Homo sapiens: one gene and its partner. The protein of the gene in region 2 interacts with the protein of the main gene of each other region in a biochemical or structural test. Each region holds a gene or a part of one and is shown on either strand. Other genes may lie near its edges. The genes, in order: RHO and ARR3.

Region 1 (10,357 bases), on a different chromosome or scaffold from region 2:
TGGAAACTAGAGGCTTCCAGCGCACGTCATTAGGACGTGGCAATGGTTCCTGATATTGGTGACAGTGGACGGGCCTCAGGAAACCCAGAGCGTCCAGCGGCTCTGCTTCCAGAGGATAGAACTAGGCCAGATTGGAGAAGATGGGGAAAAAGTCCAGGGGGTGGGCTCAAATTCAGCAAGGGGTAAGAAATGGACCCTAGCAAGACTGAGGAGGAAAGGGAAGTGAGAGTGGGAATTTTCTGGAGACAGAGGGACATGAGGCCTCTGGGGACCAGAGTCACCAGTCCTATTGTCCAAACCACTGTCCCCACTGTGTCTCATCTCAGCCCCATTAGGAGACAATCGCCTAGAGGCTGAGTGGGACCCAGTTCCAAGGGGCCACAATATGGCCACCTGCACTAGGAAGGTGTGGCCTCCCCTGCTGCTGAGGCCCAAGGTTAGAGGGGGCTGCCCCCGGGGTACTAGACCAAAGAGGATTGGAATTTGCGCCTAGCTTAGTTGAGGATTAGGGGCACAGCCAAGGTGAAGGGTTGGGATGTCTTGGATTCTGTTTGACATGGGGCTCAGGAGATGGGACCAGCCCTTGTAGCAACATTAGAGTCTGTTTCTTCTTCTGCCCTACACCCCTACCCTGAGTGGGCATTTGGGCCAGGAGACATACAAGGTCAGTGCCTGGAACCAGACACTACTGGGTTTGAGTCCTGACTGGAGGACCCTACAAAGAGCCCCCGGAGCTTCTTCCCTTCTGCTCAGTGCCATTACCTGGACCAGCCGGCGAGTGGGGGTGCGGCGCAGGCCAGCGCCATGACCCAGGTGAAGGCAACGCCCATGATGGCATGGTTCTCCCCGAAGCGGAAGTTGCTCATGGGCTTACACACCACCACGTACCGCTCGATGGCCAGGACCACCAAGGACCACAGGGCAATTTCACCTGCAAGGCAGTCAGCAGGCGGTCAGCACAGACCCCACTGCCTAAGGAGGGTGCACTCCCCCCTAGACAGGGAGAGGGTAGCTAGGAAGGCAACCAGGAGTGGGAGAGGGATTTGAGGAGGCCTTGGGGAAGGAGAGAGCTTGGTGCTGGGAGGAGGGGGAAGGGGCAGAGGGACCACACGCTGAGGAGAGCTGGGCAAAGAAATTCCAGGGAATGGGGGAAGTTATTTGCTTAGCGCTCTGGGCCCATAAGGGACACGAATCAGATCAGGGGGTCAGGATTGAACTGGGAACCCGGTAGGGAGTTTTGTGTGTGTGTGTGTGTGTGTGTGTGTGTGTGTGTTGTGTGTGTGTGTGTGTGTGTGTGTGTTTAGCAGAAGAATGCATCCTAATGTGGGGCAGAGTTCCTTGTTGGGAAGGAATGCAGAGGTGGTGGAAACCCAGAATTGGCAGTCCTTCCTCCCTCTCCCTTCTCGGGAAATGAAATAACCCGGACATGTGGGGGCCTCTCCTAGGAGCCATGAAGCAATGTGCAATGTTTTGCCCAGAGGAAGAAGAAGGAAATGATGGAATTCAGACATCTGTCCTGCTCACCACCCCATGAAGTTCCATAGGGAGAGTGGCCATATAGTTAATCAACCAAACTGGGACATTCCTAACAGTGAAAGGGACAATATTTGTAAACTGGGACTGACCCTGCAGAGAACAACCACCCGTAAGTGGCACACCCACCTTCTGGCCAGAACTGAGTGATCTGTGATTATTGAATGCAACAAACACCCAACAATGGCCAGAGATTCCCTGAGAATGGGACCGAGGCAGCAGCCTGGACATGGGGGAGACAGGGCAAGGCTGGCAGAGAGACGCTTGTGGCTGGCGGTAAGCTCTCCCCGTCACCCAGCTTTGCAATGGCTGCTTCTAGCGTCTCCTCCTGCATCTCAGCAGAGATATTCCTGGATCACAGCCAGGAGACCTAGGCTCTTGTTGCTGCCTGGCCACATCCCTAAATGAGTCTCTTCCCCTCTCCCTGCCTCAGTTTTCCTCTCTGTTAAGTGGGATCTGTTATCCCTGCAGCACCCCATCTGTTTTCCTGTTAAATGCAAGACATTATTCTAAAGCAAAAAGGAACTGCTTCAGAGCGGCTGCTTGCGGTTCTCAACACCAGGAGACTTGGAACGCGGCAGGGAGGCTGGAGGGGCACCTGAGGACAGGGGCTGAGAGGGGAGGCAGAGGATGCCAGAGGGGACCGAGCCCATTGCCCAGCACAGGGAAGACCCAATGACTGGAGAATGGAAAATCCACTTCCCACCCTGAGCTTGGGCCCCCAGAGAGGAGGGGTCTGGCTTGCCCAGCTCTCCCTCAGTGCCCAGCCTGGGTCTGACTCAGCACAGCTGCTCCAAGGGAAACAGAGGCTTGGTGCTGCAAACATGGCCCGAGATAGATGCGGGCTTCCAACTCAACTCTGCACCCGTCCCTGTGTGACGCCCCAGCAGGGCGCTTGACTTCTTTGAGCCTCAGCTCAGTTTTCTTGCTGTGAAATTAGACAAGCGCATATTGCTCCAAATAAGATCAAGGCAGTGTTCAGTGCCAGCCCTGCACAAACAGCAGCCCGGCTATCACCATGAATGGTGTTTGTTGACTGAATATATGAGGGCTTTGGATAACATTGACAGGACAGGAGAAGGGAGAAGGCCTCTCAGCCACCACCGCCAAGCCCGGGACTCTCCCAGACCCCTCCATGCTCCCGGGCTCCTGCACACCCCACCCACACCCGGCTCATACCGCCCAGGGTGGCAAAGAAGCCCTCCAAATTGCATCCTGTGGGCCCGAAGACGAAGTATCCATGCAGAGAGGTGTAGAGGGTGCTGGTGAAGCCACCTAGGACCATGAAGAGGTCAGCCACGGCTAGGTTGAGCAGGATGTAGTTGAGAGGCGTGCGCAGCTTCTTGTGCTGGACGGTGACGTAGAGCGTGAGGAAGTTGATGGGGAAGCCCAGCACGATCAGCAGAAACATGTAGGCGGCCAGCATGGAGAACTGCCATGGCTCAGCCAGGTAGTACTGTGGGTACTCGAAGGGGCTGCGTACCACACCCGTCGCATTGGAGAAGGGCACGTAGAAGTTAGGGCCTTCTGTGCCATTCATGGCTGTGGCCCTTGTGGCTGACCCGTGGCTGCTCCCACCCAAGAATGCTGCGAAGGCCTGAGCTCAGCCACTCAGGGCTCCAGCTGGATGACTCTGGGTTCTGACCCCCCCAGACCCTTATAAAGTGACCTCCCCCTCCTAAGCTCCTGGCTGAATCAGCATCTGGGAGATTGGGGGTGTTCATAATCATATTAATCCCCGCTGCAGAAACTGAGGGCCTAATTGGCTTCTAAGAGGGGCCAAGGTGACACTAGGAGGAAGCCTGAGGTCAGGGAGGAGAGGTACTCAGGATCCAGGAAAAGGGAGGAGAAGGTCCCCTAACTTCTGCATGACTTGTCTGTCCCAAGGTCCCAGCTCAGTCTGGTGGCCTGGGTTTGAAATAGGGACCATGGGCCTCTGTGCTATGTCCTCTGGACAGCTAGAGACTTTCTGGTTTATTCTCCCAGTCTCTCATCTCGTCACACAGCCCCTTACCTGTTCGTTCCCCCACAAGTTACCTCTGGAGTCATCCAGTCCCCACACTCCTCTGACAGGAGGAGCTCCATGAGGGCAGGGGCTGCAACCTGCAGCTTCCGTTTCTGGTGCCAGACACATAGCCTAGGGCCCAGGAGCCCAATCCTTGTTGCATGGAATTGGAATTCACTCTCTTGTTCGTTCATTAAACATTTATTTGCAGGCCCCTGGGAATACAAAGATGGAAAGAAACAGCCCTGCCCAGAGGAGCTCAGGGGCTGAGGAGGACTCAAATGTGGGAAGAAGCAGATTCCGTCCAGGGTGGCTGTGAGGTTGTGGAGACAGGGCCTGACTGCCTGGGGGTTGCAGTCTGGGAGGCCATGTTTGGGCCTTTGAGAGAAGGAGCAGTTTGCCAGGTGGCTAGGTGGGGAAGATCTGGGCTGGGGGCAGTTGTAATGGGTCTTGAACGCTAGGCCGGGGAACCTGGCTTTATCCAGAGGAAAGTGAGCAGTGGCTTGGGCAGATCACTGGTGTAGAAAGGTGACTCAAATGCCCCCAAAGATGGAGTGGAGGGAGGGAGGATGGAGGGGGCTACCAGAGCAGGGGAGGGGCAGAACCCTTCAGGGGACTCCAGTCTGAAGGGGAGGCTGGCCCTGGAGGCAGCAGACAGGGCACTGTTGGGGGAGGCCTAATCAGCCACGAGGGCCTCAAATGCCATGTACCAGGTGGCCCCACGAGGGCCGATTCCAGAATAGCAGGATGTACCGTGAGAAAGAAAGTAGTCAGAGCCTTGGGGGCAGATGACTGGGGGAAAATGGAGGCCAACACTGGCAGGTCCCCCTCTCCCCGTCGTCCAAGCAACATGATGACACCTCCCAGGAATGAAGTGGGGTGTCTGGGGCGGCCTGTGCAAGTGCTGAGAGTGCCCGACGTGCGGCCGCTCAGTGACCACTGTCCAGCCAACATGTGTATTGAGCACCTACTGTGGCCCAGACAAGGTGCTTGGTCCTTGGGGACACACAGGGTACACGAAAGAGCAAGCTCCTGCTCACAAGAAGCCAGTGTTTTTGTGGGGTGAGGGGGCACAGGGACCACAAACAAATAGAAGAGCGAATAACAGTAGGGACAGTTCAGTCGCAGCCACTCCCAACACAGGAGGCTTCTCTGAGAAGCTGGAGCTTGAGCTGAGAACGGAACAACAGGAGGAAGCTTCAGGGGAAGGACATCCAGGCGGAAGGACCCCTGAGAGTGCAAAGCCCTGATGCCTGGGAAATATCCCTTAATCTCTCTCTCACTGTCTCTCTTCCCACCCAGGATTCCCAGATCTGTCTGCTCAGAAGAGTGCCCCCTTCCCTGCAGCCCACCTGGGCTCCAGCCCCCTACCTGGCCTGGGTGGTGTTGGGTCTAACAGCGTTTGGCACACGTGGCAGGGCTAAGGCAGGGCGGGTGGGATGGGGCCTCTCGTAGTTTAAGGCGCTTGGCCTGGTGATTATGCCCAACGCTAATGAGGTTAAGGTGAGGGTTTGATTCTGACGTGGACCCTCATGGCCAGAAGGAGGGTGTCCTGGATGCCTTGGGTCAAGACTGACCCACAACTGGCCCCTCCCTGGCCGGGCTGAGCCCCCATCCCACACAGCTTAGCAGTACCTCAGCATCTTGCTTTTTGCATAGTGCTTCTGACAGCATGGAAGCTTTTTATTTGTGTTTTGTGCCCGTCTCCCTGCCTGTAACATGAGTCCACAAGGGTAAGCCTGGGTCTGTCTTGCTCACAACAGGGTTCCCAGAGACCAGCATGGTGCTTGGCCTGTAGTGGAAAGAGGTGGGATGATGTCTGTTTTGTTCACTGATGTGTCTCCAGGGCCTGGCACCTAGAAGGTGCTCCTGAATATTTGTTGAATGAACGAGTGAGTGGGGGAATGGACCTAGATGATCTCAGTACTTCCCCTCTCTGTCTCAGGTTCCTCCTTTGTGAGTTTCACAATTGCAACCTCATGGAGCCCTGGTGATGGGGAACTAACAGCCATCACTGAGGTGACAGTGCTCTTTATTCTGTAAAGCTTGACGAAGAAAAAAAAAGTTTTGAGACAAGGTCTCTGTCGCCCAGGCTGGAGTGCAGTGCCACAATCATAGCTCACTGTAGCCTCTGCCTCCTGGGCTCAAGCGATCCTCTCACCTCAGCCTCCTGAGTAGCTGGGACCACAAGTGCACACCACTAGTTTTTGTATTTTTTGTAGGGGTGGAGTCTCGCTATGTTGCCCAGGCTGGTCCTGAACTCCTGGCTCAAGCGATCCACCCTCCTCGGCCTCCCAAAGTGCCAGGATTATAGGAGTGAACCACCGTGTCCGGCCCAAGAAATTTTTTTTTAAACAAAAAATGCTCTTTGTTCAGGAAAACAGACTCATAGTGAGCTGGAAGGGTCATTCGAAGTCACCTACTCTGACCATCTCTGCTATATCCATTTTGCAGATGAAAAGACTGAGGCCTAGCTCTGCAGAGTTGCTCAGGTCCCGTTACAAATCAGTGACAGCCTGGGCTATAACCCACACAGTCAACTGGGCTTCCTGGGGTATCAGCTTCCCAAACCTGGCTATGCCTCCCTCCCCTCATCAAAGATAGCTCTCAGGAAAGACCAGCCAGCCATTCACACCATGGTATAAATGACTAAAGAAAGGTTTAGCTGGGGTAATGGAAAGGCCCTAGACTGAGTCACACAGGCCTGGCGTGGGGCAGTGGAAGCCTCGAGGAGAGGAGGCTGGATTCTAGCTGGTCTTTGAGTCACCATGGTAGTCCTGCTTCCTTCCCCTCTCTGGGCCTCAGTTTGCTCAGACGAGGAAGCCTCAGTGTGGGGTAGGGGCACACCCATCTATACAGTAAACCTCACCTGCTTTCTCCATGAGAGCCTGGTTCGTGAATCTTTAGACCCTATGGCCTTGGTTTCACTGTTCTCCCTCATTGGGCAAGGCTCTTTTCCACCCACCCTTACATCTGGACTGAGGCTACACAGCCTGGGTGCAGCCAGCTACCCCGCCCTCCCGAGAGTGTGCTTCGGTTCTCCACTCTGTAAAATGGGAATGATAATAGTGCCTACCTAATAGGATTATTGGGAGTGCTTGTAAGTGATCAATATATTTGTTGCTGACAGTATTAATCTCTTCCTGAGTCTCCTTCAGGTCTCCGCTCACACTCATGTCCTTGGAGAGACCACCCCTGACCATCCTACACACCAGGCACCCCCACCAGGTTTAGCTGTTTTGAGACAGGGTCTCACTCTGTCACCCAAGCTGGAGTGCAGTGGTGTGATCTTGGCTCACTGCAACCTCCTCTTCCTGGGTTCAAGCGATTCTCCTGCCTTAGCCTCCCAAGTAACCAGGACTACAGGCATGTACTGCCATGCCTGGCTAATTTTTATATTTTTAGTACAGACAGGATTTTGCCATGTTAGCCAGGCTGGTCTCTAACTCCTGATCTCAAGTGATCCATCCGCCTCGGCCTCCCAAAGTGCTGGGGTTACAGGCGTGAGCCACCACACCTGGCCTATTGTTTTTTGAGACAGGGTATCACTCTGTGACTCAGGTTGGAGTGCAGCGGCATGATCATGGCTCACTGCAGCCTCAACCTCCTGGGCTCAAGCGGTCCACCACCTCAACCCCTGAGTAGCTGGGACCATTGGTGTGTGCCACCATGCCTGGCTAATTTATTTTCATTTTTGTAGAGTTGGGCTCTCCCTATATTGTCCAAGCTGTTCTCTAACTCCCAGGCTCAAGTGATCCTCCTGCCTTGGGAGCCACTTGGGAGGCTGTAATCTCAGCCTCCCAAAGTGCTGAGATTATAGGTGTGAGCAACCACACCCAGCCATGTTCAGTTTTTACACAGTCATTACCATCAGCGACTATCTCATTTGTCTTCTTAAAACAATTTTTAAATGTTTTTTAGAGATGAGTCTTGCTCTGTTGCCCAGGCTGGAGTGCAGTGGCGCAATCATAGCTTACTGCAGCCTTGAATTCCTGTCCTAGGCTCAAGTGATCCTCCTACCTCAGCATCCCGAGTAACTGGGTCTACAGGCATGCCACCACACCTGGCCTCATTTGTCTACTTATTGACTGACTTCCCATCTATTTCTAGAATGCAGGACCAGCCTGGCCTGTTCATCGCTGCCTCTGAGCTCACAACCCATAGGAGGTGTTCAATAAACATTTGTTGAATGAATGAACAACTCCTCCTGCCCCCTATGAAGAGGGTCTAACTCCCCACTGACCACTGAGGAATCTGGGGTATGCAGGGTCAAAGTTCCTCTGCAGAGCTGGGATTTGAACACAGGCCTGGCCAGCACCCACACCTTGTGTCGGGCAGTCCAGAGAAACCCATGGTGTGGGTGTTGGCCAAGCTGGCATGTGGGGGGCTTTCTAAGCCAAGATGGCTGGATGCAGCCATCTTGGGGCACCCGAGTCCCAGCCCTCGGGAGCCCGGCTAGGGGCTTTGCCTTTGCCTCGGTGGATTAGGGGCTTAGCTTGCAGGGCACAAATCGCTCTTCAGCCTCTGCAAGAGAGGAGCTGCTGTGAGAGGAGCTGCTAGGTCAGCATCCTTCTCCTCCTTCTCCTCCTCCTCCTCCTCTTCCTTGGCTTTCTTTCTCCTGGTCCCCCACATGGCTCAGCCCCACCAGGCTGCGTCACCAAGGCTACATGAGGCCTTCAGCGGTACTGAGAGCATCAAGGGGGAATAAGGGAGGGAGAAAGACCAGCTCTCATTCCCTCCTTCCTCTTTCTCTTTTCTACCCTAGCATTTGCCAAACTCCTTATATGCGCCAGGCCCTGGGGACGCTGAGGTGGATCCCACATGGTTCCTGCTTTCAAGGGGCTCCCAGTCTCAGGGGGTACTGATCGGAAACTAAACATGAGAGATGAGCATTTTCTCCCAGTCCCAGTGCTGTGGGAGCCCAGAGGAGCAAAAGGTGGACCAGGAGGGTCAAAAGAGTCTCCCAAGCAGGGCAGGTAGGGAGGGCCAGCTGGGCCTGGAGGTGCTGGGCCCCCCAGGGTGGCGTGCTGGGGATAGAGGGCAGGCCTAGGGGTCTGGGTGTTGGCTGAATTGCATGGGCAGCTACTGCGGGTGGCAAGCAGGGAGGGCCATGACGAGGTCTCCATACCAGGCCAGTGTTCTGGATCTGCAGGGGGAGAATCAGGGAGGCTCGGGGTAAGCACCCTGCCCAGTGGTGGCCTCTGCTGTGGGCACACAGACTCCAAGCCAGGGAAGAGACACAGAGCGACCTTGGAGGAGGGGCCTCTGCCCACCTGTGTGACAGCCACCAGGGGCTCCTAGCTTCACAGCCTTGCTGGGGACAGATGGGAAACCAAGGCCCGGGGACCTCCAGCTGCCTGAGGTGCGTCTCCAGTCAGGTCCACCTGAGGCTGCTCAGTCTACCTCTCCCTTACTTCCTCCTTCCAAGAACATGGGCACAATGTTGAGCACTTGGAGATGAGAGATCAGGACCAGTCCCAGTCAGATGGGGTCTCCCTATATTGTCTGAGCTGGTCTCTAACTCCCGGCTCAAGCGATCCTCCTGCCTTGGCCTCCCAAAGTGCTGAGATTACAGGTGTGAGCGACCACACCCAGCCATGTTCAGTTTTTACACAGCCATTACGATCAACAGTTATCTCATTTGTCTTCTTAAAACAATTTTTAAATGTTGTTTAGAGATGAATGTTGCTCTGTTGCCCAGGCTGGAGTGCAGTGGTGCAATCATAGCTTACTGCAGCCTTGAATTCCTGTCCTTGGCTCAATTGATCCTTCCACCTCAGCCTCCTGAGTAGTTGGGACTACAGGCTAAAGGCCAGAATCACTGCCCCACCGTGCAGCCTTCAGCAGCTGCTCCTCTCTGGCCTCAGTGTCCTCTTAGTTCAATGGGCATCACCAGGTCCCTGTGGTGCCTTCCTTGTCACAGGCACTTGAGGGGTCAACAGGATCATCATCCAGCGCTGTTCACAGACGCAGACTGAGGCTGGAACCTCAGAGTCAGAGCTGGAGGGGGCCCTTTTGTGCAGATGGGGAAACAGCCTTGGAGAAAAGACTGGACTTGGTTCAGACCCAGATCAGGCTGAGAGAGAAAAGCAGCCAGACACAGGGCTTATGCACAAAGGTTGCACCCAGGTGCGACCAAATATGCCTTGGCTTAATGCATATTTGCTGAATGAAAAATAACATGACTGAGGCTCAGTGTCATCACCTGTGTAATAGGCAGCCTTGGATGATGCACGGAAAGTGCATCTGAATGAATAGGGGTCCTACTCAGGCCTCTAGAGCTGAGCTTCCTGGGGCAGCAGAGCCCGGCACAGCACACTCATTTTTGTGTTCTTCGGCTGAGGGGATGCATGCTGGAGTCTCGGCTGGAACCCTCCCCTGCCTCCAGCCAGGGACCATCTGATCTGTCACTGTGATTGACTGCTGGGTAGCTGGAGCTGTTTTCTCCCTCTCCCCTTTTTCCCAGCCATATGCAAATGATTTCAGTTGAAGTCATGCGCTAATGGAAATCCTAACACATTAATAAATGTTTAGTGAGAGAGCGCATGCATGATGGTAAGTAATTAGACACTCGACGGAGGAGTTCTGTTGGCACAACTGTCTGGCTCCCTTTCTTTATTTTCCTCCATCATCTCCAGAGAGATGCGGAGGGAGGCAGGGAGGAGGGGCGGTCTGGGGTGGGGCAAGGGCTCTGGGATGGGGCTCTAGCTCCGACACTTCCCACTGGGGGCCTCTGCAGCCACTCTCCTTGGGGTCTCAGTGTCTGCGTCCCTCCAGTGGGCATATTTGCCCTGCCCTGACCCCTGCACAGGTAGGTTG
Region 2 (9,954 bases):
AGCTTTAAAAATGTGTGAATGCCTTTTGGCCATTAATTCCTCTTCTAGGCACTTAGAAAGAAATAATTGAACAAGTATGAAAAGGATGTGCATTACAGGGCGTTGTGGTATCCCCATATGATATAGTACTAGGCAACTTAAAAAGTTATAGATTTGTGTATATTGACATAGGTTTAAAAAATGTAAAATATTATTTTTAGTATAGCATTTTTAGTGAAAATATAGATATGTTTGCACAGAAAATATGAATAAATAAGATCAAAAGATTAGTGATTAAAGATGGTAAGGTTACACAGTCTCTCCTTCATCTATGTTTTCTAATTTTTCTACAATGGAGACAAACCTAATAATTTTCAAAGATACAGCAAATAGATTCACCTTGGTTCTCAATTATGGCCAATTATAGTGAGAGAAAGGAGAGAGAAAGAAAGGAAAATAAGGCACAAAGGAAAGGAAAAAGACAGAAAGTAAAAAGGAGAGGAAAAGAGGTGGCTGGTAGGAGGCAGGGTGAGAGAAGAAATGAAAAAGATGAGGAATGAGACAGAAAAAAAGGTCAGGATGGGCGAGGCAGAAGGGGATCTAGTAGCACCTGAGGTAAGGACGTTAATCAGATGACTTGTTCTTGGAATCGCTTTCTGTTCCTGTGTTGGGAAGGCAGCAGACTAAGACATCAACTGCATCACGCAACTCCTACCCCCAACTGAAGCTCTAATTGGCTCTCTAGCAGTTTAGAATCGTCCTTTTTTTTGCATGCTAGGAAATAGCTTGTTTTTATTTTCTTTTAAAGTCAGTATCTATTTTAAAGTTATTAATGTATAGTTGTGTTTATTCTACAAAATATATGTTAATTGTCTGAACATCAGAAAATACAAACAAAAAGACAAATCAAAGCTCCACCATAATATATCATGTTCCACAGATAACTACTGTTAATACCTGTTATGTGTGCTTCTCAACTTTGTCTGTTGCTATAATTGAACACAAGGCCACCTTAGGTATTTTTTACTTTTCTCTCATTGCCTTTTTGAAGTTAAACTTTGTATTTTGAGATCATTGTAGAGTCACATGCAGTTGTAAGAAATAATACAGAGAGAGATTCCAGATAGATTTTTGTTAAACAACAATTCGTTCACACCACCACATATACTGCCCTATCACTGGCCTTTATCACTCCACAGTATAGGGTAAGCATATTTTACATCCACAAATGTACCTTGATAGAAAAACACATTAGAAAATATGATGCAAACAAGACAATCTTCACAGAGGTAACAAACCATATTGAAAAACTAAGAATAAACAAGAAATATGCACAACTTAAATGAAAAGTAATATAAAACTCTACTAAGGGGACATAAAAGAAGATTAGAATAAAAGGAAAAATGCATCTCTTCCTGGAACAACATATATTTTTAACTAAAGATTTCTTTCCATAGCTTGTGAAGATTTTGTAGAAATGTGAAAAAATGATTTAGGTTTTAGAAATATAGAATACTTGGGAACCTTAAATAAGTTGGTTAATTTATGAGTCTATCCCAAAGTTCCTCTGATACTTAAAACCGATTTGATTGCTTATTTACACTGCTTAATCTGAGAGATTTAGGCTACTTTATTCTCCAATATCTAACAGTTACATCTGAACTAGTATTCATCAACCCATTCAGAGCCTTTTTCAAATCAAACCCAATTTTCAGTCTAGTTGGATCACAGTGGGGTTAATCCATAGTGAGAATTAAAAGGAAAAAAAGCAGCAAAAAAAAAAAATCAGCATAATCTTGATCTGTAATACTGCTGCCAGAGTAATGTTTCTTAGTGTTACTTCCTATGGTTGTTGTTTTGTTTCTTTGTTTGGGATTTTTTTTTCTTGAATAAAAGGTCAGCCAGTTTCCCTACACAAAAAAAGGAGATGGAAAGACGTATACCAGAGGTTACAAAATGACAGCCTGAAAGTCACATCTAGCCAACAGAAAAAAAAAAAAAGTTTATAATCTATCCAGGCTTCTAAAGTCTTTTAGTGAGTTGCTGACATTTGAAAATCAGGAAATTTGCCTTAAAATATGGATTTCTGACTTACTGGATCATTCTATAGGCAGTCTAAGATCCAGATCAATAGCCAAGCAGGGGCACCACCAGTAATAATAGAGAAAATCTGAAATTCTGAAAGAAGCTATTTTAATTTCAGCACAAGTGTAAGTTTTGTGTAATTTTGAAAAATAAAATTTAATTTATGCTTTAGATATTTACTTTGAATATTATTTGGGTAAGGGGGCACCATAATCTTTTCACACTTTGGGCCTCTAAAAGTCTTATTTTGAGCTTCGTTTACAGCTCCTCATTAACAATTAGAAAATTTGGCCACACTGGGCTGGAATTCCCAGTTGTCAGCCTCCACCAGAGAAGGCATTCGCAGTTCCTGCCACTTTCTGGTTTTGTTGTACTCTGGTGCAATCCACTCATCGGGTTACCTGTCTGAAACATACAAAGACCAACAAGGATTTCCACTTACACTTTCGACATTTTAAGTACTCAGGATCAACCAGGACAACACCGTCTGTGGAGAGAAGGACAGACAGCACTTTGGTCAGGAAAAACTCTCAGACTATGAAACAGAGGATGATCCCTGAAATGGTTCTTCCTATTCTTCCCTTTAATTTGCCTCCTTTTCTGCACGGTCTTTCCTGGACTTTCTTTTACTCCCTAGTTTCCATTCCTCTTTCCCCAGGCTTCCCTTTTTTGGACTCACTGACCAATGGGTTCCACCGTGTCCACATGGTCCACGAAGTCCCGTTTCCCCAGGTAGATGGAGAGCTGTTGTGGAACAACTTCCCATGTTATTCTCACAATCATTTTTGAATGGATTCCCCTGAAACCCCCAACCCAGACCCCTGAGACCTTGAAGGATGTACCCACCTATCCCTTTTGCCCTCTCATTTGCCCAGCTGGGCCAGGTTCTCTCACCTTCCCATTGGAGCTGGTCTTCTTAAACACCCTATGAGGAGAAAACCAGAAAGAGGATGGAGAGGGGGATTGGAAGTGCAGGGAAGAGGAAATAAGGGAATTGGGGAGAAAAAGAAATATTCTTAGGATTAGGAGAAGAGGCTCCAGGAGCATAGGATGGGGCAAAGGTAGGGATAATTGGGGTAGAATCCAAGGACACAAGTTAGGGAGAAATTGGAAATCCCCCTACCCCAAAGGGAAATACTTGGATTGGGGTAGGGAGCAATTCACAGGTTCAGAGGATTAGAAGGAATTCTTACTTGGACATGTTGGCTATATAGTTGATGTTGAGCCTTTTCTGGGAAAAGGGAAAGAAGAAAGGCTCAATCATTTCATTTCTATTCTTCTCACCCCACTCCAGCATACCATCCATATACACCTAGTGTGATGTAACCTTTCCTCCTTAGACAGACACCTCACCCACATCAAGTACCTCCTATTCTCCCTTCTGCCAAGGGTACTTCTTCAGCCATATTCTTGCCCATCTTGGGCAAGAGGGGAAAAAAACCTTCCTATTTTGTACAAATCATTGACTAACCATACTATGTATTCTCCAGAAAGGGCCAAACTTCCTAGAATGGCTGGGGAACTCTTGAGAACCCTGAGAGAGAAGGAACTTCTCTGGAAAGAGGCTGGACAGAGGCTTCCATCCAGAAAAGTGTGAGAAAAATGTGTTTCTTGGTCTGTATGAGGCTAGACATCCCCTGGCACACACTAGGTGCCAAGACATGTTTGTTGGATACATGAATGAATGAATGAATGAATGAATGAATGGACAAATCAATGGATTCTGTCTCCTTCTGCTCCTGCAATGGATCCTGAACCTGAGTTCACCTCATGATGCCCTTGACTCTCAACAAAGAAGGGAGAAAAGTGTGAGAGAGAAGGGGTTGGTGCCTTCATGCTCTCAGTTTTTGGTGACAGAAGTCTCTATGGAGGTTGAAAGTCCTCCTTGAACCAACTCATCCCTCTCATTGCCTTTCCTAGATTTTCCCATCCTTATCCCCATCCAGGTCCCCAGGGGCTAGGCCTTTGGATGGGAATCCTTAGAGAGAGGGAGATGTCTCTCTAGTGCTTTCCTTTGATGCTTACTGAGCCTGGCCCAGGGGGTGAGCTTAGGGGAGCTTCCAGAGGTCTTTGGAGGGTCTCTAGGCCTGAATGTCTATAGGCTATGTCAGGAAGGGTGTCCCTCAACTGCTGCCTGATATATTAAGAGGGATGCTAAGAGCAAGGGATATAGGGCTTAGTATGGGCTAGAAGTAGAGGGCTTTGGAATATTACCTGGGGAGAGAGATGAAGTTCACATCAGTCTCCAGCTCTGGTTGCTATGCCTGCCTCCCCAGCCTCTTATACCCACAGTCCTCTGAGTGTTTTGATTGGTGGGGGTCATGGGAAAAGAATAGGGTTCTTGGTGGGGGGGCATAAAACACTGCTATAAATAGTTCAGGTGCCAAGAGTTTGGAAAGCAGATTAGTGCCTAAAAGATTAGTGGCTAAAAGATTAGCAGGCTATTGCTGCTGGGACAGAGTGGGGGTAGGAGGTTGATTCTGATGATGTTAAAGGCAAGGGAGTTTGAGAAGGGTAACTTCAGGATTTTGGCCTTGTGAGGCCTTGAACCTGAGAACTGGGATCAAAGTGGAGTTGGAGGTCTTAAAGGTGAAGCATGGTGGGGGATTGAAATGGGAGGGCTCAAAGTATAGGCCTTTGTGTTTTTGAAAGGAATACCTCGTGTCCCACTCCAATCTCTATATCAGCGGCTCCAGGCCACACAAAAGCCAAGGGTATGGGAAAGAGTACCTCGTCCCCAGCCCCCCACCACTTTGGGACATTGGACTTTTGAAGCTGATGTTTAGAAACCCTGATTATCCCAGCTTATGTGCACAGCAGGAGTCAATCTCCTGTAGGTAGTGGGGGCAGGAGTGGTGGAGGGGGATCTGAGTGCATTGAGCTGTGTATGCACATGTCTGTGAGCCTTGAACTTCTCTTCTCATTGGAGAGGAAGGTAATATAAGATTCCCAGCCCAGGGACAGGTTCTTCTGGCAGGACATGCATGTGGAGGGAATAGGCGGTTGACATCTGTGTCACCCCTACCGAGGGTAAACCTCCTCACCCCAGCTCTTGACTCTGTCCAATCCCTGAAACTAACTAAGTCCATGCTCTAAGCAGCTTCTCTTGCCTCGTATGACCGCTCATGGAATTAGAGATATTTCTGTCTCTTCAGCTGCCAGGACCCCCACAACAGCAACAACAAAGTAATCTTCCTTTCTTGACTGTCCTTCCCACAGGGCCTAGGCTCAGGCTTCACGGGCATAGAAAATGTAGAGACAGAATCTATAAGCTCTGGGGTTTCAGGACTCTGACCTCCTTCACCTCCCCTTACAGCAGTCTGGACATTAGTAGTTATCTATAGACACAGCCCTCAACCCCAACCCCCACAATGGGGTGTCCATTCCTCAGAGGATGGCTATGGCTATGGCTCAGAGGGCTGGGCAGGGCCTTCCCTAACTCCTGCCCCTCACTGAGGGCCCTGGACAGCTGTCCCATATTCTCTTTGCACAGTTCACAGTGTCAGCCCCTGCCATTCCTAGCCAATATGCATCTCAGGGCCTGGTTGTTTAGTTACTATAACTCTCTCCTTCTCAGGGGCTTTCAGATAGTGCAAGAAGCCCAGATTCTGCAGGTACCACAGTGGGATAGGAACTGATGCTGGACATACAGGAAAGATTTGTATACATGCCAAGGTTGGTGTCTGCGAGGAAGGCGAAAAGTCAGAATGAATCTACTTTTCATGCCAGACATGGCAATATTCAATGGCAGGAAAGGAAGGCCTCTCTTCTTGTATGCTTATTTTCATCATTCAGGAAACCTTTCCCAGATCTCTAGAATGACTAGTGGTCAGCCTGTTTTTGTCTTTAGACCCACACTCGAGGCTCCTACCTCCCTTTTAGGTACTCAATCCCGCTTATCTTCTCTTTCTACTCAGATCCATGGGCCTCTCGGTAGGAAAAGAGTAGATCTGCTAGGTCTTTAATTCATTATTATGATGGAATGTAAATCATTACTCTTTTCCAGAAGTTTGTGCATTTCTTGACTGAGGTAAAATTCACAAATCTTAACTGCAGCTCAATGAATTTTTACCTACTGTGGCAAGCTGAATTATGCCCCCAAAGATGTCAGGTCTTAATCCTGGGAACCGATGAACATTACCTTATATGAAAAAGAGACTTTGCAGATGTGAATAAATTAAGGATGTTGAAATAGGGAGATCATTCTGGATTATCCAGGTGGGCCCTAATGTAATCACCAGTCTCTTTATGAGAGAGGGGCAGAGAGAGTTTTGACTCTGAGATAGGAGGAAATATGAGGCCTGAAGCAAGATGTTAGGCTGCTGGCTTTGAAGACGGAGGAAGGGGCCATGAGCTAAGGAATGCAAGGAATACAGCTCTAGAAACTGGAAAAGACAAAGAAATCGATTCTCCCCTAAAGTCTCTCATGGCTGCAAGATGGCTGTTCCTGCTCAGGCATGGCCCTGCTGAAACCTTGATTTTGGTCCATTGAAACTGATTTTGGACTTCTGACCTCCAGAACTGTAAGAGAAGAACTGTGCATTGTTTTAAGTCACCAAGTCTGTGGTAATTTATTACAGCATCCATAGGAAACTAATACACCTGCGTAAACGCGCATATAACGACCACCCAGGTTAAGATATAGAACATTTCCATCCCCCCAGAAAATTTCTTTGTGCCTCTTTCCAGTTAGTAGCTTCCCAAAGAGAACTGTCACCAGTTTTGCTTTGACCTGGAATACTTGCATTTTACAAGGATGCAACAGTAAGTAGGCAAAGGAATGCATAGCTAATGGAGTTTCTGGCCCCTATAATACATGGGTGGAAGAAATATTTTTAGGTCCTTACCCACCCTCATTCTGTACACCCGGATGATATCCCCAACCAGACCTTCCAGTTAGAAAATGATGATCAGATGTCTGCATGAGGAAGGAGTGGGTTATTCAGTAAAAGGTTGTAGCAGACAGAATTGCTTACCAACTCAATAGTCATCTCCCTCTTCCTCCTTGTGGAAAGAATCCCCATTTTTAAGGTAATTCATCCTCCTCCGCATGAGTCTGTGCTCCTCTATGCCAGTCATGGTCGTTTTATCCCCCTTGCCAGTGATCAGCCTAGTTATAGGCATGGTGAAATTCAGGCCACTGTGATGTGAGAGGAGGTATGCTGGAGAGATTCTGGGAAAGTTTTCTTGAATGATAAAAATAAGCATACAGGAAGAGGCCTTCCTCTTTTACCATTGAATATTGCCATGTCTGGAAACAATGCCTGACCGGCAATAGCCACCTTGTGACCATGAAAGTTGCTAAATAACATGCTGAGGTTTGCAAATCAGAAAGATGGAAAGAATCAGGATTTTTTAATGACATTGTTGAACTGCTGAATTAATCAGCTCCAAAGCCACCCACTACTGAACTTATATGCAAGATAATATATTTCCTTTTTTAAAAACAGTCATCTAAGTTGGGATTTTCTGTTATTGCAACTGAAAACATAGCAAAAGATTCAAGTGGGATGTGGATGAGGCATTAGCTCAGTGGGGGAGGACGGAACGGAGATAGATGGATTAAATCGCAGAAACAGATTTCCTGTGCTGTCCTAGGTGCTGAACAAACTAGTCCTGGTCTCCACTCTAAGGTTGTTAACAGCCTTGCTGGAGATAAAGTTGGACATGTAGAAAGACAAAAAGGGCACACTACAGAGAATACATATGGACAAAGTTAACTTGTGTACAACTATGTGAAGCCAGTCACTTCCCAATGATTTTATTAGTAAGTTTAGACATCCAGGGCTTCAGATCACTACTCCTTTCCATTGAGATTGAGTGACTTTCGTGTTCCACTTACTCTCAGCAGGTAATTCCATTTGTTCACTTCATAAAGAAAATTCAGCCAATTGGAGTGGACCTCACACCTTCCAAATACACGTATACTTTAATTCTCAATAACGACAATGAGGGCACTCTGCTGGGTTCCTTACATGCATTGCTTCATTGTCTTCTCACAACAAGCTAGGTGCTAGCATCCTCATTCTACATATGAGGAAATGGAGGTTCAGAAAGACTTATCCATAGTCATAGCCGGCAGGCGATGGAGCCAGAGTTCAACCCTAGGTCTGTCTGACTCCAAGCCTGCATTTTTTCCACTATATCACTTACCTTCCCTCCCTCATTTTCTTCCCTCTCCCTCCCTTCCTACCTTTATTCCTCCTTTCTCCCCTCCCTCCCTCCTTCCCTCCTTCTCTCCCTTCCTTCGTTCCTTTCCTCCTAACTCAGATAAAGAGATTAGAAATCATGCCTCTTCCCCCTTTCCTTCTTAAAGCCCCAAGGAAACAGCAAACCTTGCAAAGAAACTGTCATCAAGACAATTACGAATATTAGATGTGAAGGGCCAGGAGGGAGAGGACTGGAACAAACTGGAGGAGTAGGGCAATGGAAGGGTGTCAGCAATAATGGTATTTGTACATCTTATTTATCTCTGTCAGGGAAAAAATAGTAAACTTTTCCTGCATACTAAATTCCAGACATCAATGAGATACCCAAGTGTGTGTGTCCTATAGCAAACAACATATATAGGGCTTAGATTATAGATGTGGGAACCATTCAGTTCAACAAATTATAATTAAGTCATTCATTCACTCAACAACTATTATTGAACATGTACTATGTGGAAGGTACTTGTTTTCTTAACTCTGAATTGGAAGGCATTTTTTGGGGGACAGCAGAGAATATAATTTGAAAGGAAATATCTAGAACATATGTTATAATAACTTTACCTGGAAGGCTATGGGAAAGACAGAGGTAAAATGAGGTACATGTTCTCAAGGAGCTCTGGTTCTGGTATGGGGGTGGGAGGATCAGGAGGAGATGGCCAAAAACACAAATGAGTATAATTCTAGGCTGCCTGTGGTATGTGCCATCTCTGTAGAAATCAAATGTGATAAGAGTGTGAGAGAAGGAGAGATGCATTTTGATTAGAGAGAGATCTGTATGCTGGAGTCTCTTGGCCATTACAATTTTTGATAACCTCTGAGTCATAGTTGAAATCATGAGAGTGGATGTTCCAAGAGAGAAGGGGAAGAGAGGGTGGGGGTAGGGGGAGAGAGATGGTGGAGAGGGAGAGAGAGGAGAGGAGAGGAGAGGAGAGAGGAGAGGAGAGGATCTTTGGGGGAAGGCTCACATGTTGGGGAAGTAGGGGAAAAAAGAGCCAGGGAAGGGGCCAGAAGGAACATCCAGAGGAAGAGGAGAACCGGAGTAAAGCAAAGTCACAGGAACCAAAGTAAAGAAGAGTTTCACAGAAGAGAGTGAGGCTGATCTGCTGCATTCCGTTCCTCTTGGCCCTGGGTGAGGACAGTAAAAGCCAGGCAGGTGTGCCGGTTGGGGAGGGTTGGGAGAGGTCTTTTCCTGAAATAGCCACTGGGCGGCAGTGGTGGCAGCAGCAGCAGCTGCAGCTGTGTCGGGACATGCAGAAACGTAGCAGAGCTAAGTCAGGAGAAATGTAGCAGAGGTAAACCAGCCTGAAGCAGTAGGAGCAGGAAGCTGGCTCAGGCTGGGGCTTCTCTAGTGTAGTGCTTCTCCTTGGGTGTACACCAAACTTCAAAACACGCTTGTCCACCTCTGCAGAGGCCAGGTTCATTCCTGGGAGCAAAGCAGTAACAAAAAACACCTTCTAAACTTGCAGCATTTTATGGTTCACAAAGTGCTCCACACCTGTTAACCAATTCAATATTCAGGAAACCCTAAAAGATTGGTATTATTATTATTCCCATTTCACTGGTGAAGAATGGAAGTTACAAAGAGGCGCCCAGGCTCACATAACTAATAAGTGGAAGAGCAAGGATTTAAACACCAGCCCGTCTGGCTTCAAAAACTTGGGCCTCTTATGTAATGTCACAG

What was found.
Region 1: the proteins of ARR3 (region 2) and RHO form a complex in vitro, tested with the Homo sapiens proteins (one study listed by BioGRID).

Annotation. Positions count from the first base shown.
Region 1 is NC_000003.12:129,521,450-129,531,806, reverse strand, and holds the start of RHO (rhodopsin), read right to left. Parts: upstream 3,169-10,357; 5' UTR 3,074-3,168; coding exon 2,713-3,073; intron 932-2,712; coding exon 763-931; intron 1-762. UniProt on the Homo sapiens protein: Photoreceptor required for image-forming vision at low light intensity. Required for photoreceptor cell viability after birth.
Region 2 is NC_000023.11:70,262,697-70,272,650, reverse strand, and holds the start of ARR3 (arrestin-C), read right to left. Parts: upstream 4,318-9,954; 5' UTR 4,279-4,317; intron 3,296-4,278; 5' UTR 3,266-3,295; coding exon 3,258-3,265; intron 2,990-3,257; coding exon 2,959-2,989; intron 2,809-2,958; coding exon 2,748-2,808; intron 2,576-2,747; coding exon of another isoform or gene 2,552-2,575; coding exon 2,507-2,551; intron 1-2,506. UniProt on the Homo sapiens protein: May play a role in an as yet undefined retina-specific signal transduction. Could bind to photoactivated-phosphorylated red/green opsins.